Linked DNA regions of Homo sapiens. The protein of the gene in region 4 interacts with the protein of the main gene of each other region in a biochemical or structural test. Each region holds a gene or a part of one and is shown on either strand. Other genes may lie near its edges.

Region 1 (3,500 bases), on a different chromosome or scaffold from region 4:
CCTGGGGGCAATGAGAGAAGAGGATGGAGGCAGTGTTCCCTCTTGGGTGGGGATCAAGTCTCACCATGGCTTTCTGGGCCTCTTCCTCCAGCTCTCCCTATGTCCCCATCTAGCATTCCACCTCCTCTGCTCCTTCAAAAACCCTCCCAACCACTCCTCCCCAAGTCTGTCCTCACCTCACCTCCCCGCTACAGGACCTCAGAAACCCACTGGCCCACCAGCCCTCATGCCCTGGCCCCTTCCCCCTTTCCCACCTTCATCTCATACTCCTCCCGGGTGTCGATGGTGTCGCAGCGCAGGTCCTGCTTCAGATCCACATCATCCTTAAACGACTGTGGAGCAGCAGGAGTGGGACGTCAGCAGACGGAAGCCCTGCTCTTTTCGCCCCTCACCAACCCCTCCCCACGCTCAGAGGCCACCTGCTCATGGGTGGGGTCTGAGGTCAAGGGCAGACTTGAGTTCTGGTCCTCTCAGCAGAGGCTCTGGGATGTGGTGGGAAGAGGCCAGAGACCTTGGTTCGAGCACTAGTTTGGTTGCTAACATGTAATGTGACCTTGTATATGTCACTGCCCCTCTCCAGGGCTGTTTCCTCATCTCAGCAATGAGGCAGATGGACCAGAAAGCCTCTGGGGGCTTCCAACTTTCACACACTGTGGGGCAAAGGAAGTCTTTGGACAATCCCAGCTGCCTATCCTCTGCTGGAGGAAACTAGCCTGGGGCGTGTGTGAGAGAATGTGTGTGAGTGTGGGAGAGTGTGTGTGGCAGGACCAGGGAAGACCGACTGAGGAAGGAGAGAATGACCGCGGTTATTAGAGATCTGGGATGGAGCTGGTCCTCAGAGGGTGGAGAAGGCAGGAGGCCAGAGAGGAGCAGGACCCTCACCGAGTAGATGGCCTTCATGACCCGGGTTGCTGTGGAGACGCTGGCGGTGTCATCCTCCCGGTCAGAATGCATCGTAAGTGGCTCTCGGTTCACTGTCTCCACCTTGATATCCAGCTTCCTCAGGGTCACGTCTTTGCGACCTGGGACGGGAGAGGCAGCCTGGAACAAGTGCTTCCTGCTGGTCTCTGCAGCGGCTGCTTCTGGCTCCCTCTGGGCTGGAGCTCAAGGGCCAACCTCCCATCCACCCCAAGCACTGCCTGTCATGGCCCTGGAAGAGCCAGGGGAAGGCTGTGGGCTGCACAGGGCCCATACTCACTGCCTTTGCGGCGCCGGTAGAGGAAGAATACCAAGGCGATGAAGAAGAAGATGAGCAGGATGCTCGCGCCGATGGTGGCCCCAGCTATGATGCCCACAGGTAACACCTCTTTCGATGGGGAAGGAAAGGTGGAGGGGTGAGGCTGGAGTTATACTGGGAGCTAAGCTCAGTGCTGGCTAAAGGCTAGGCCACAGCCACAGAGGCAACCTTGGCTTGTGTACAGGGCTAAGTTTTGACTGAGCCTGGGGACAGTGTTAGGTTTAAGTCAAGGTTGGATTAGAGAGGAAGGTCTGCATTGTGGTTGGATTTTGGTCTGTGCTCCAGCTCCATCAGAATGGAGATCATGGTCATGTCTCATCCCTGCAGCTGGGGCAGGAGTTTGCCCCTGGTCTTGGTTGTCTGTCGATCCCTGTCCTTCAGCCCACCTGACTATGATGCTTGGCCCCTCGCTCTTCTTTGAGGTCAGCTGTCTCCAAACTCTCCAATCTGCCACCCGTGTTCCGACATCTTTCACCACTGTGCCATCCATAATACCACTGTGACTGCCGAATGTTCACCTATCTACTCAGGGCTCCAACAGTTTTCCTTGGTTTCCTCTGCTTCCCAGAGCTGAGGAAGAGCTCAGGAATCCTGCTTCCAGCCTTCTCTGTCTTCCTAGCAGCCCTAGTTGAATCCAGATCCTGCTTATAGCTCTTCCCCTCTGAGATCTTTCCCTGTGGAGCCCCACGTTACTGTATCTACTCCATTCTTCCCCACCCCCAACCCCCTTGCTGGCATCCTTAGTTAAGACTGAAGTGATAGGCCGGGCATGGTGGCTCATGCCTGTAATCCCAGCACTTTGGGAGGCCGAGGTGGGTGAATCATGAGGTCAGGAGATCGAGACCATCTTGGCTAACACGGTGAAAACCCGTCTCCACTAAAAATACAAAAAATTAGCCGGGCGTAGTGGCGGGTGCCTGTAGTCCCAGCTACTCGGGAGGTTGAGGTAGGAGACTCATTTGAACCCGGAAGGCACAGGTTGCAATGAGCCAAGATCGCACCACTGCACTCCAGCCTGGGCGACAGAGCAAGACTCCATCTCAAAAAAAAAAAAAAAAAAAAGACTGAAGTGATGGGATGCTGTCATTTTCCATGTGGTTCTCCATCTCCTATGTCAAATGGTTAGTTCTCAAAAAATAAAACAACAACAAAAAAATGCTATCTTTTCCTCCTTGGACTTGGTAGCTTCCAAAAAAGTCAAAGGAATACCTCTTTTATCATGTGAGAAGTGCCTTAAAGGAGAGAACACTTTTCTGCTATCAGAGTGACAATTCTTGAAGAGGTAGGGGAACCCATACTTACTGAACACCTATTGTATGCCAGGCATTTTGTAAATATTCTCTAATTTAATCCTCACGTCCACCCAATGAGATGGGCGTGTTATTCCCTTTTGCAGTTCATATGATTCTTCTCCATCCGAATTAATTTACTACCACTCTGTAAGTCCCTCCTCCACTACACCGAAAGTTTCTTGAGGTCAGGGACTGTGTCTTGTTCACAGCTCTTTCTGCAGCCCCTGGGGCAGAGCCTGGCACATAGCAAATGCTCAGTACACTTTAACGAAGTGAGGGCATTTCCCCAGTTGAGCATGGAGGCCAGGTTCTGGAGGGAAGGCCCCAGAGAGTTCTTTCCCTCTGATGCACAGACTCTTACAATAGGCAGGAATCAGAGGGGAGTAGCCCCAAACCCCTTCACTCCTGACCTCTCAGCCAGGACATCCCTCTGTGTGTCCCCTCCCTCAGAGCAGAGCCCAAGGGAAGGGGAGCAGCTGAGCCCTGCCCCTGGAGAAAAGAAGGAGCAGAATCCTCAGGCTGCTCTGCACCCCAGCTGGCAGGCAGCACTACCAGTCACCTCGCTCTTCCAGCTGGATGATGGCTGTGCCTGGCCCGAAGCTGTTCCAGGCGGTGCAGTTGTAGTGAGTCTGAAAGTCGGCCTCCATGACATTGTTGATGGTGAGCGTGGATAGCACCCCACTGCCTGAGTTGGTCCTCTCCACTGTATAGCGTTCCAGGGTCCCCACCTCCAAGAAGTTCTCCTTCCAGGCCCATGCCTGTGGTGGAGAGGGAAGGAAGAAGGTAAGAAAGGGGCAGGGGGCAGAAGCCCATGCCCACGTGTCCCCTGATCCACCCTCAAGGCACCCTCACCCCTATGTGCCATGTGTGCCCCACAAGCCCAGCCTAACACCTCCCTGTAACAAACCTAAGTCACACCTGCTACCTCACACCCTCGGCACTGACACTCCACTCAAGGAGAAGCAGTGGCT
Region 2 (3,500 bases), on a different chromosome or scaffold from region 4:
ACAGGTGGTTCCTAATGCATAGAGCAACATGTCCTGAATTTAATAATGGGTCTAACTTGGACACAGTTGACTGTCCAGGACACAGTGGGCAACTAAGGCCATCCTCTTCAAGACAGCCAGTGGCTTGAGAGGCAACTGGCATGAGTTCTCCGACTATCAGGGACATTTTCGATTGAATAGTGCCTGGCTGAGTGAATCAGATGTAGTTTCTTTGAGTGTGAGATACACCCACACACAAACAGCAACAGAAAGACATATAACAATAAGGGCAGTAAGCAGGAGACGGGAGGCAGTCTGAAGCCCTAGGAGACTGGGGGAAAGTGGTTAGTAGTAGAATTAGAGAGAGGGGACTGGAGGCCTGGGAGGACAAGCTGAGCCACTGGGAGCAGGGGCAATGGATGTCACTTGTTTCTATCGGAGGTACTGCTGACTATCACATGTTGTCCCTCTAGAGTGACTATTGTAATTTGCATGGTATTCCAGTTCAATAAGGATAGGCTATGCCTTAAAATAAGCTCTTAGAAATTTTTAAAATAAACTCATATTTATTGAGGCAATTAGAATACATCTCTTTTCCTTGAAACCTGAAAATACCTAATAAACACAGAAATAAAATCTCAGACTTGGCCAGTCTGCTGGAAGGCTTTTGAAAAGCAATACTACTTTTTCAGGACCGAATAGCTTCAAAAGAGTAAGAGAAGACAGAATGGAAAAAAAAAAAAAAAAAAAAAAGTAGTAGAATGGGTTGCCAAATAAAACGAACTTAAAAGCCTAACCTAAATCTCTGAAAATCTCAACATCATAAGATAGGCAAAATTTCAATTTCTTGCTGCCTAAAGTATAACATAATTAGAATTCCAGAGATTCACATGCCATTAACTTCCACTTTCCTGTGCTATCCAAAATTTAGTAATAAACTACAGAAGGTTTCATGTGGATATTGAAATAAAATGTCCTCTTGAAAGCAAATAAGAGCACATACATCTTAAGTTCTGAATTTATATTAGAAAAACATGTCCACCCTAATTTGCTTAAAACTGCATCAGTCACAAAATAAAAAATATAGTAATAAAAGAACATGACTCCAAAAACCAAAAGAGTCCTGCAACCCAGATGTTTCTCTGGAGGCCAAAGGTTAAATTATGCCAGCATGTGAAGAAAAACTTAAATCTATAACAGATCATTTCAGACCAGGTGCAGTGGCGTGACACGCCTGTAATCCCAGCACTTTGGGAGGCTGAGGTGGGTGGATCACCTGAAGTCAGGCATTCAAGACCAGCCTGGCCAACATGGTGAAACCCCACCTCTACTAAAAATACAAAAAATTAGCCAGGTGTGGTGGTAAACGTCTGTAGTTCCAGCTACTTGGGAGGCTAAGGCAGGAGAATTGCCTGAACCCAGGTGGCAGAGGTTGCAGTGAGCTGAGATGGCGCCATTGCACTCTAGCCCGGGAGACAAGAGTGAAACTTCATCTCAAAAAAAAAAAAAAAAATTAAAATTAAACAGATCATTTCATTTTATTTCAAATATTGGAAGAATTTTTTTTTTTTTTTAGTCTAGCAGTGTTATCCTACTAATGGTCAATGTTTCAATGGAAGAAGATTTTATCTATTCTAGGTCTGTAGAAAGATACTTTGGAAACCAATGGCTATATAAGCTCAAAAAGAAAATTAAATTTATCTTAAAGCCAATCAAATAACGACTAAGTTCAAAAACTTATAACTAACAAGAGTTAAGTGTCCCGGTTCAGAATTCACCCAAAATATCACAGTTAGGGGGAACCCTTCTTTCCCACCTCCAATGTTTCCTTCCACATGGAGGAACCTCCAGTAATTGAACACTGCTGATCCCTCTCCACCTATTCACTTTCCCCTCCCCAAGAGGAAGAGTGGCTTAATGTGATTGGTAAGCTGAGAAGGAGAAACTGGGCATGCAGAGCCTGGCAACTTCCTCTCCCCTTTCTCTTGAGAAGTAGCTGCCTGCAGGAAACAACCATCTGTTCTGTTTTTTGAGGTAGTAAGTTTTAGAGGGGCATGGCTTCAGTAGCAGAATCCTGTGGTGGTCCAGGGCTTCCTGGGAACAGGTGACTCAATCCAGCTAATCTCAAAGTTCAGTATTAGAAAGCTCATTTGCCCACTAATTCTCTAAAATTAGTTTTATCAGTAAATAAGGTAATACCTTGATCTCCCATCTGTCTTGTCATTATCTTATTTCTCAATTGATTCAGAACTCAGTGAGGGAAGAGAAGAAGAAATTTTATCCTAAAAACTGGAAAACGTCAGAACAAAGCTGGATTTGAAAGGAAAGAAGAAAAGAAAAAGTAAAACTTGAAAATGAGTGTGGACACTTTGGGAGGCAAAGGCAGGTGGATCACTTGAGGTCAGGAGTTCAAGACCAGCCTGGCCAACATGGCGAAACCCCGTCTCTACCAAAAATACAAAAATTAGCCAGGCATGGTAGTGCATGCCTGTATCAGCTACTCAGGAGGCTGAGGCAGGAGAATCACTTGAACCCGGGAGATGGAGGTTGCAGTGAGCCAAGATCGCGCCACTGCACTCCAGCTTGGGCGACAGAGCGAGACTCCCTCCCAGAAAAAAAAAGTGTTGAGAAAAAAACTACTGCGTATGTGTTACATGCGGTGATATAATTACCCAAGAAGGAAAACGGTGCAGGGGAGGAGTTGGAGGTTTGCTGTATGCCACCTTCTTTGCTGAGTCACAGTGTTCCTGGTCATCTGAATTTGGAGAGTCCAAGGAGTCATAGGAAAATAATCCATCATCACAACTCGTGTCCATATTCTCTAAAACTTCTGTACTGTCTCCATCAACTAGATCAAGATCAGTTTCCTGAGGTCTCAGTGGTCGTATCATGCTTATAGCGTTTCTATTTGTACCAAACATCCTGTCAGAGCTTAACTGTGGCTGGCTTAAGTGCCTTTTGGCTAGTGCTACACTTATACTGAAAACATTAGGAATCCTTAACTTTGGGGGTGGCAGGTGTGATGAAGGCACTAATTGTGTTCCTTTTCCAGAGAGTGAGTTAGGATGCTTTGGCATTAAAGCTGGGGTCAAAATAGGGCTTGGGGTGTTGGCTTCACTCGATGAAGATGAATAATCGAGTCTCTGGGATTGAAATTTTTTATTCAGTTCATCCGAGGAACTATCTTGTTCCTTTTTACTTAATTCAGAATTTCCCTTTCCAAGAGGACTATTTAGAGCTTTCCACTGTGCCTCCTGCTGCCAAGAATATAGCTTCTTGTGTTCTGGTCTCTTTATGCCAAAAGTCTCTTCCTCAAATATAGAGCTGCTGTCATCAGATGCTGTCAGATACATTTCACTTCCCATCCTGCTACACTGGACCCCTTCCTCAGATGTGTGACTGGAGAGGGTGGATGTGCATCTGGACTTGGATCTTCCTTTGCTCCCGTCTTCCTCATCAGAGCTCCAGTCACTCACAGGAGCCCCAGAATTCTGGGAGATGCCACCATCTGTGGCAAAGCT
Region 3 (3,500 bases), on a different chromosome or scaffold from region 4:
CTTTATTAAATATACAGAAGAAAATCTTATTTGCAGATTTTTAAAATAATTATTTGTTTCAGTATCGCATATATCCAAAAAAAAAATGCACCCAGATATTTATTACATGTAGCTCCTTAAAGGATGTTACTGCACCCTTCAAACCAAGGAAACTTTGACCTTGCCATTACAAAAAGCAATAAAAGCAGTGGTCTTGGATGTCTCAGTCAATGATGACCACCTAAATTCAGGCAAAGCTCGGGGTATTAGAAAGTGAGAAAGAGCTTCTTACTAATAATTCCAACTACATTATTAAATAGCTGAATATATGAAGAATACAATAAGTTACATTTGTACTAAGGAAATTTCTATTCATTTTCAAAACAGATGAATTAGGAGAAAAGGTAAAACTAAATATCACTAAAGATATGTTGTCATCATAATAATGGAAACCAATGGAGGAAAACAAATTGATTTACAAATTATTATGCTTTTTAATAAGTTGAAATTATATGTATAATACATGTTTTGTCTTACATCTTCTTCCTAATATTCTGCCCATTTGTGCACATTAGCACACACTTGTCATAGGAAACTGTTACTGTCTCTGTAGTATTTCCTTATGTGGATAATATATCTTTAGTTTGTTTCCCAGTTTTCAGTCTAATACATGATACTGAATTGTCTTTAAAGAATTTATTTTGTGCTTTAAATTGTTGCCTTCATGTATCTTCACTTTCAAGTCTTCTGATACATATTGTCTGAGAAATGTGTTTAGGATACACGTCCCACACATTTTCCCCAAGGCTTTCTTAAGCTAATAGAGGTGGCAGAGAGAAAAACAGTGGGAGAAATAGCGTTTGGATACCGTAATATCTAAAAACCAAAGCAAAGATGAGAGAAGGAGAGGCGAGAAGCAGCCCTTCTGTTTTGTAAGTGGGTCATTGCTGACCTTTGAGAGAACAGTTTTCACAGGGTATTGATGTCCAAACCAGATTATAAGGATTCTCTGCATTAAAGGCAACAAGGGCAGACCACTCTTTTAAGAAGTCTGAAGGTGAAAGTTAGGCTGTAGATGGGCAGCAGCCTGTGGGGGTGGAGGGCGGGGTCATGGGGGATAAGGAAGGCTATTATAGGATGGGAGAAATCTGAGCATTTTTTAAAAGGATAGAACCAGTAGGGAGGTAAAATTTCAAGATGCAAACTAGAAGAGGGATGAACTCTAGAACCAGGCAAGACAGTGTGAGTGTGAGACCACGAGACAGATGGCAGCCAGCTAGAGTGAGCAAGAGGGACACTCTTGTCACAGAGACAGGAAAGCATAGGAAGAAAGACTTTGAGGTGGACATTAAGGAAATTAATCAAACTTGACTTTCTTAGTAAATCAGAAGATGAGTCTAAAATCTCCTATTTTTATGAGCACCCAATTCAGGGGTTTCTAAATTTTTCTCTCCATTGGAATTACCTTGTAACCTTAAGAAAATAATGTTGCCTGGATCCAACCCCAGAGATTGTGATTTAATTGCCTGGAAGTGTGGCCTGTTCTTTGGCATTTTAACACATTCCCCAGGTGACTTTACTGTGTTAGCTGAGTTTGGGAGCCATGGACCTAACGTACTGGCAGCTTCATAGAGATGCTACTAGATATGTTTCAGCCAGAGACAAGCCCAGGAATTTTACTCAGCTGCTAGAAGGGAGAAGCTGAGCAGATATAAGGGCTATGAAACTGCTATAGCCTTCCTGTGACTTTGAGGGCAGAGCCTGTCTGAAAATGGCAGTGGATCCAAAAGAAAGAGACACCATATCTGACTGTCATCACTTCAGCCCCTGCTCAAGAACTACCTTAAGGGAGCTCTGAGCTCTCCCTTAGACTTCTTCAGTTAAGTTAGCCATTAAATGTCTTTAACACCTAAGCCCATTAGAGCCAGGTCTTTCTGTTATTTGCAATCAAAAGAGGCCTGATACAGGTTATAACGCATTTGTGTGTATACATTTTGGTGAGAGTTTTGAAGACATAGTTTAAAAATGACAGTTGACTCAACCATTTGCTGAGTCCACTCCTGAGTTGCTCTCATTCCACAGAACTGTGTGAACACCCCTGCAAATCTGAGCCTGCAGTCCTGTATGAAGTTATGAGCGCCACTGCTAACGTAGGATTTCCAGTGGATCATTTTGTTAAGTCTTCAAGTCTGCCCTCCTTGGCAGTCCACATCAGCATAGACTGGAAGGAATGTTCCATGGGGATGGAAATGAATATTGTAATTTTCATGTGATTTTTTGTCCTTACTATTTAGGGACCTAAGGGCTAACTGATCTCTCCCTTTCTTCTCCCCTTATGCGGAAGGTTATTATATGGAGAAAATAGTTGAAAGGCAGGGTTATAAAGTTTTCTGCTTTGGTTGTATGCGGTGCAATGTTCTGAGCATCTCAGCTCTTCTCATTGCTCCCTCTTCTCTTCTGTTACTTGTCTTCTTTCAATGCTAATGGACATAGCTACTCATGCAAAGGAGTTCACCCTCATTTGTATGGTGCAGAAAGTCTGTTGCCCTAGCCCACAATGAAGAGTAGACTTCATTGGTTAAAGTCATCTTCTATGGAGCCAATTGTTAAATGTTAAAGAATTTTTTGAACTAGCTTGTAAACACAATCATTTAAAATTATATAAATTTGCAATTAAATGATATTAAAAACGGAGGTAATGAATACTAACAATTCATCATTTTCTAATCATTACTACATTTTATGTTCTGTGCTCTTGAAGTCTACTCTATCTATGTGGGAGAGCTACTCTATAATGGTGTGCCACACATCTCTTAGCAACTCCACATTCAATGACATCAAGTTGGTAGACTGAAATTGGCCATAGTGGGAGTATTTACACCAGAGACATTGATGGATGCTATAAATCAAGGCATGCCCCGACAAAGCCACTTGTTAAACATTTACCAGCACACCACTGAATAGGTACTCCTGCTCTGTGTATTCATAAACCTGTATAGATGGCTTTCATTATGCTTTCTACATTTGATGATAATTCTTTGTTTATCTGTATACAACCATCAGACTATGAATTCCTTGAAAATTAGTATCCATGCTTTACTTACCATTATGTCACTGGCAAGTACAAAGTATTTGGTACAAAGAAAATGCCCAATAAGTATCTGTCGAATGGATAATGTTAATATTTATTTATTTATTTATTTATTTATTGAGACAGAGTCTCACTCTGTCACCCAGGCTGCAGTGCAGTGGCACGATCTCAGCTCACTGCAGCCTCCGCCTCCTGGGTTCAAGTGATTCTCTTGCCTCAGCCTCCCGAGTAGCTGGGATTACAGGCACCCATCACCACACCTGGCTAATTTGTTGTATTTTGGCCCGGCTGGTCTCAAACTCCTGACCCCAAGTGATCTGCCCACCTTGGCCTCCCAAAGTGCTGGGATTACAGGTGTGAGCCACCATGCCTGGCCAAATGATGTCAATTTTTAAAGATCTCCGGGCTTAACCAATCCCACACATTTGTT
Region 4 (3,500 bases):
GAAGCATATCTTTTAAACTAAAGCCACTAAAAGTACATTTCTTCAATAAGCATTTTACATACCTTATTTTTTTCTGAATTTTCTGCCACTGTCTTCAGATGAGCTGAAAGGAACTTAAGTGTTTCATAATGATGTTCAGGCAAATCGTGAATCTGAAACAGATTATTTTCACAATGGATTCAGAGGCTGAATTTTAGTTGTATCCCCCAAAATATAAAATAATACCTACTAGTCTTTTTAATGTTTTCAGACGATCTAGAGGATCTTCTTTACGATTGGCTTCAATAAAATCAGCATATTTATCTGACGACAAGAACAATAAAACAAATTTATCTTAAATTGCCTAGGTGAATTGTAATCTAGTTTCCCTTTAAGGATCAATTTTAAACCACAACATAGGAAAGAGTTCTAATAGTTTTGAAATGTAAATTTCTAAAATGTAAGTTCCCTGCAGGAACCATCCTATATTTACACAGCCTGTCCATTCCTCCCCCACCCTCCAACAACATCTAGTAAAGTGTCTTACATGGCACTTAAATACTTGGCTTGACTGAAAAAACATTTTTCTACTCATTGTACCTTATGATGTCAGAAGCCATTTGACTGGAAACAATAATATTAATTTGGCTGCAAACATGTATGAACAAGATAATACATATTTCACTGAACCTAAATAACTTTTATGTTTTTAATATATGAGGGAGAACTAAATAAAGCCTCCTGCTTCCTTTGACCAAGACATTTTGTCCTTGTTCAATTTAATATTCTATGGTTTTCCAATTGTAACTTGAACCATTTCATCTGGTATCTTTCACGGGAGTTAACTCACCATTTGTGAAGAGAGGCTCAGGGAGTTTTCTGAAGAAGGATTTTAGTAAACTGCTTATCACATTCAAATCTCGCCATTTCTAGGTGTACAAAATAGAAATATAGTATTTTCATATCCAGTTCCACCAAAGGGGGAAAAAAAAGGATCAGTTATTCAAATAAGCAAACTTACATCATCTTGTATATCAATATCAGCCATTCCCTTGTTGAGTTCTTCTTGCATACTTGAGATGGCTGCATTATTTCCAGGAACTCTATAAATACCTGTATATTCAAGACCTCTTTCTTCAACTAATTTGCAACATATGTCAACTATTAATGGAATATACTGCAAAACAAGAAATAAACATTTTATTTAATGCAGCACAAATGTTTAGTAGTTGTATATCACAGCTAAAATGCCCCTTTCATCCAAAAGGAAACATAAATTGCTGTTATGTAATATAAAGAATACAGACATTATAGATCTGGGAATAGATAAAACCTGCAAGAGATATTTGAGACAGTAAGAAGAGAACAAAGAGACTGAAAGAAAGAGAGGGACCCCCAGAGAGATAACATTCTAAAAAGGAAGTAACAACAGGTAAAGAGAATGTGGAAACCGTTCCGCTGAATAAAGAGTCAAGAAAAGAGGAGGAGAGAGTAATATCAATTCATGATACGAATCCTAGCATGGGTGTTTTAAATATATGCACATACATTTACATGTATTATACTTTCTTAATCAGGTCCTTGTTCTCATCCTTGTTTTAAAATGCTAAAAGCAGAAACACACGATTTGAAGACGAATTCTTACAGACCATTTCAGACAAATTCCTAATGGTTGAATAATTATTCAATTTCGGAGTCAATACATTAGAAAAAAAGCATTACAGGTCAGAAATACTTAGGGAAACTAAGGTCTGCTATGAAAAGGAAAACAGATTGACAGTCTCTGTTGTCTGAAAGGCTATATACTCAGATCCCATTATAATCAAAACTGAATTAATGACTTGAGGAAATCCGGTGGGCTGGTGTCTCCTACCCGATTAGTATGAGCTGGTGGGCAGTCATCTAGTCGGACGCCGAAAGTTCCTGTAGCAGTTGGCTTTTTCTCAAATGTCTTTCTCATGATACTTGGAATGCCTTTTCTCCATGTGCCTTTGTCTTTTGGGGGACTGGTATCATCTTTTGATTGCCAGTCAAAATAAAACAACATAATAAAATGGAAATGAGTGTCTAAATCATGACTTTAAAAACACTTTATCAATGTTTACATAAATCCAAGTCCTGTAATATAAATAATACATCCTATATTTAACAAAAATATGTTCTCTTCCATATAACTTTTACTTCATTCTTTTATAATGCGTGCTATAATTTTCTTTAAAACAGCAAAAAAAAAAACTACATAGAATCAGTGTGTCATCTTTATAGTGAGACTTCAACAAAGGGAAAAGTAATAGTTTTATTTCAAAATGATAGGACCTGAATCCTCGGAGTCATTTAAATTTGTAATGTCTCTGATTTAAGTATTGTTTGTATTTTCCCTCACTTTCGCTTTATAATGAAGCTGGTGTCTTGGGCCTCACAAAGGGAAAGGCCCAATGAGCCCAGACCAAGCCTACTATGAATTTTGAGCTAGTTGACATGGGGCCTGGTCAGTAGAAATGGTACAGAAAACATAAACGTACCTCAACGATGCCAATTTTAAATCATTATATTTATTTGTTAGAAAGCTAACATCAATACCTTTACTGAGAAGTTTCCTTTCCGACTCTTCCTTCGGAGAGTGTGGGCTTTGAGTCTTTGGCTCTGATTTAGCACCAAGCAAAGTTTGCCTGATGCTGAGACTCTGGCGAGGTGTTTTTGGCAACTGTTCTGCTTTGCTGTTGAAGGAAATGACATTTGTTAACAATTACAGTAATCCCCCTCTATCTATGGTTTCAGTTACCCGTGGTGAGCCATGGTCTGAAAATATTAACTGGAAAATTCTTGGAATAAACAATTCATAAGCTTTCAATTTTGTAGTCCTGCCCAGAATAAGAATCATCCTTTCATCCCGAGTAGCCACACTGTATACACTACCCGCCCATTACTATATGGGAAAAAATATAGCGTAGAGAGGATTTGGTACTATCTGCGGTTTCAAGCATCCACTGGGGGTCTTGGAATGTATCCTTGCAAATAAGGGGGATGACTGTACTGATTTTATATCCAAATTAACTGCAGGCAAGGTGGGATTCTCACCTCATCAGATTGTTGTATTCTTTTATTCTTCGACTAATTAGATCCCTGTTAGTGACTCCAGTGTCCTACAGAATAAAGTAAAATTAGAAAATCAATTCTAAACATAAATAAGTGATCCTTACTTTTTTGAGGCTTTCTATTGTACTGCTTTGCTTATTTAACACAAACACTACTATCATCTGTTCTCAGTGGAGCTGTTTCAAAGCTTCTATTCAACATCACTGTGTGAAAGATTTTCCAAGTGCCTCCCAACATTGCCAAAGGGTTTTGCTTCTTTTCTGTATCCATGCGATACCTAGGATAGTACCAGCAAGTAACATGTGTTCAATACTTATTGAATTGATCCGTCCATTTAAAATAAATGACTAGGAAGCAGCCAGTGTTTTCTCTAATACCAGAAAGAATGATCAGCATTTAAGAAATATACGTGTAAGTGATTTTTC

The links. The genes of interacting proteins can lie anywhere in the genome.
Region 1: the proteins of ARHGAP21 (region 4) and KIRREL1 interact in a test that uses a peptide from one of them, tested with the Homo sapiens proteins (one large-scale study listed by IntAct).
Region 2: the proteins of ARHGAP21 (region 4) and PLEKHH2 interact in a test that uses a peptide from one of them, tested with the Homo sapiens proteins (one large-scale study listed by IntAct).
Region 3: the proteins of ARHGAP21 (region 4) and GRIP1 interact in a test that uses a peptide from one of them, tested with the Homo sapiens proteins (one large-scale study listed by IntAct).

What each region holds. Positions count from the first base shown.
Region 1 is NC_000001.11:158,091,145-158,094,644, reverse strand, and holds part of KIRREL1 (kin of IRRE-like protein 1 isoform 1 precursor), read right to left. Parts: intron 3,288-3,500; coding exon 3,089-3,287; intron 1,307-3,088; coding exon 1,199-1,306; intron 1,023-1,198; coding exon 883-1,022; intron 333-882; coding exon 255-332; intron 2-254; coding exon 1-1. UniProt on the Homo sapiens protein: Required for proper function of the glomerular filtration barrier. It is involved in the maintenance of a stable podocyte architecture with interdigitating foot processes connected by specialized cell-cell junctions, known as the slit diaphragm.
Region 2 is NC_000002.12:43,699,760-43,703,259, reverse strand, and holds part of PLEKHH2 (pleckstrin homology domain-containing family H member 2), read right to left. Parts: coding exon 2,652-3,500; intron 2,251-2,651; exon of another isoform or gene 2,179-2,250; intron 1-2,178. UniProt on the Homo sapiens protein: In the kidney glomerulus may play a role in linking podocyte foot processes to the glomerular basement membrane. May be involved in stabilization of F-actin by attenuating its depolymerization. Can recruit TGFB1I1 from focal adhesions to podocyte lamellipodia.
Region 3 is NC_000012.12:66,669,077-66,672,576, reverse strand, and holds part of GRIP1 (glutamate receptor-interacting protein 1), read left to right. Parts: intron 1-3,500. UniProt on the Homo sapiens protein: May play a role as a localized scaffold for the assembly of a multiprotein signaling complex and as mediator of the trafficking of its binding partners at specific subcellular location in neurons.
Region 4 is NC_000010.11:24,594,888-24,598,387, forward strand, and holds part of ARHGAP21 (rho GTPase-activating protein 21), read right to left. Parts: intron 3,123-3,500; coding exon 3,058-3,122; intron 2,697-3,057; coding exon 2,560-2,696; intron 1,996-2,559; coding exon 1,853-1,995; intron 1,157-1,852; coding exon 1,001-1,156; intron 909-1,000; coding exon 830-908; intron 304-829; coding exon 230-303; intron 153-229; coding exon 63-152; intron 1-62. UniProt on the Homo sapiens protein: Functions as a GTPase-activating protein (GAP) for RHOA and CDC42. Downstream partner of ARF1 which may control Golgi apparatus structure and function. Also required for CTNNA1 recruitment to adherens junctions.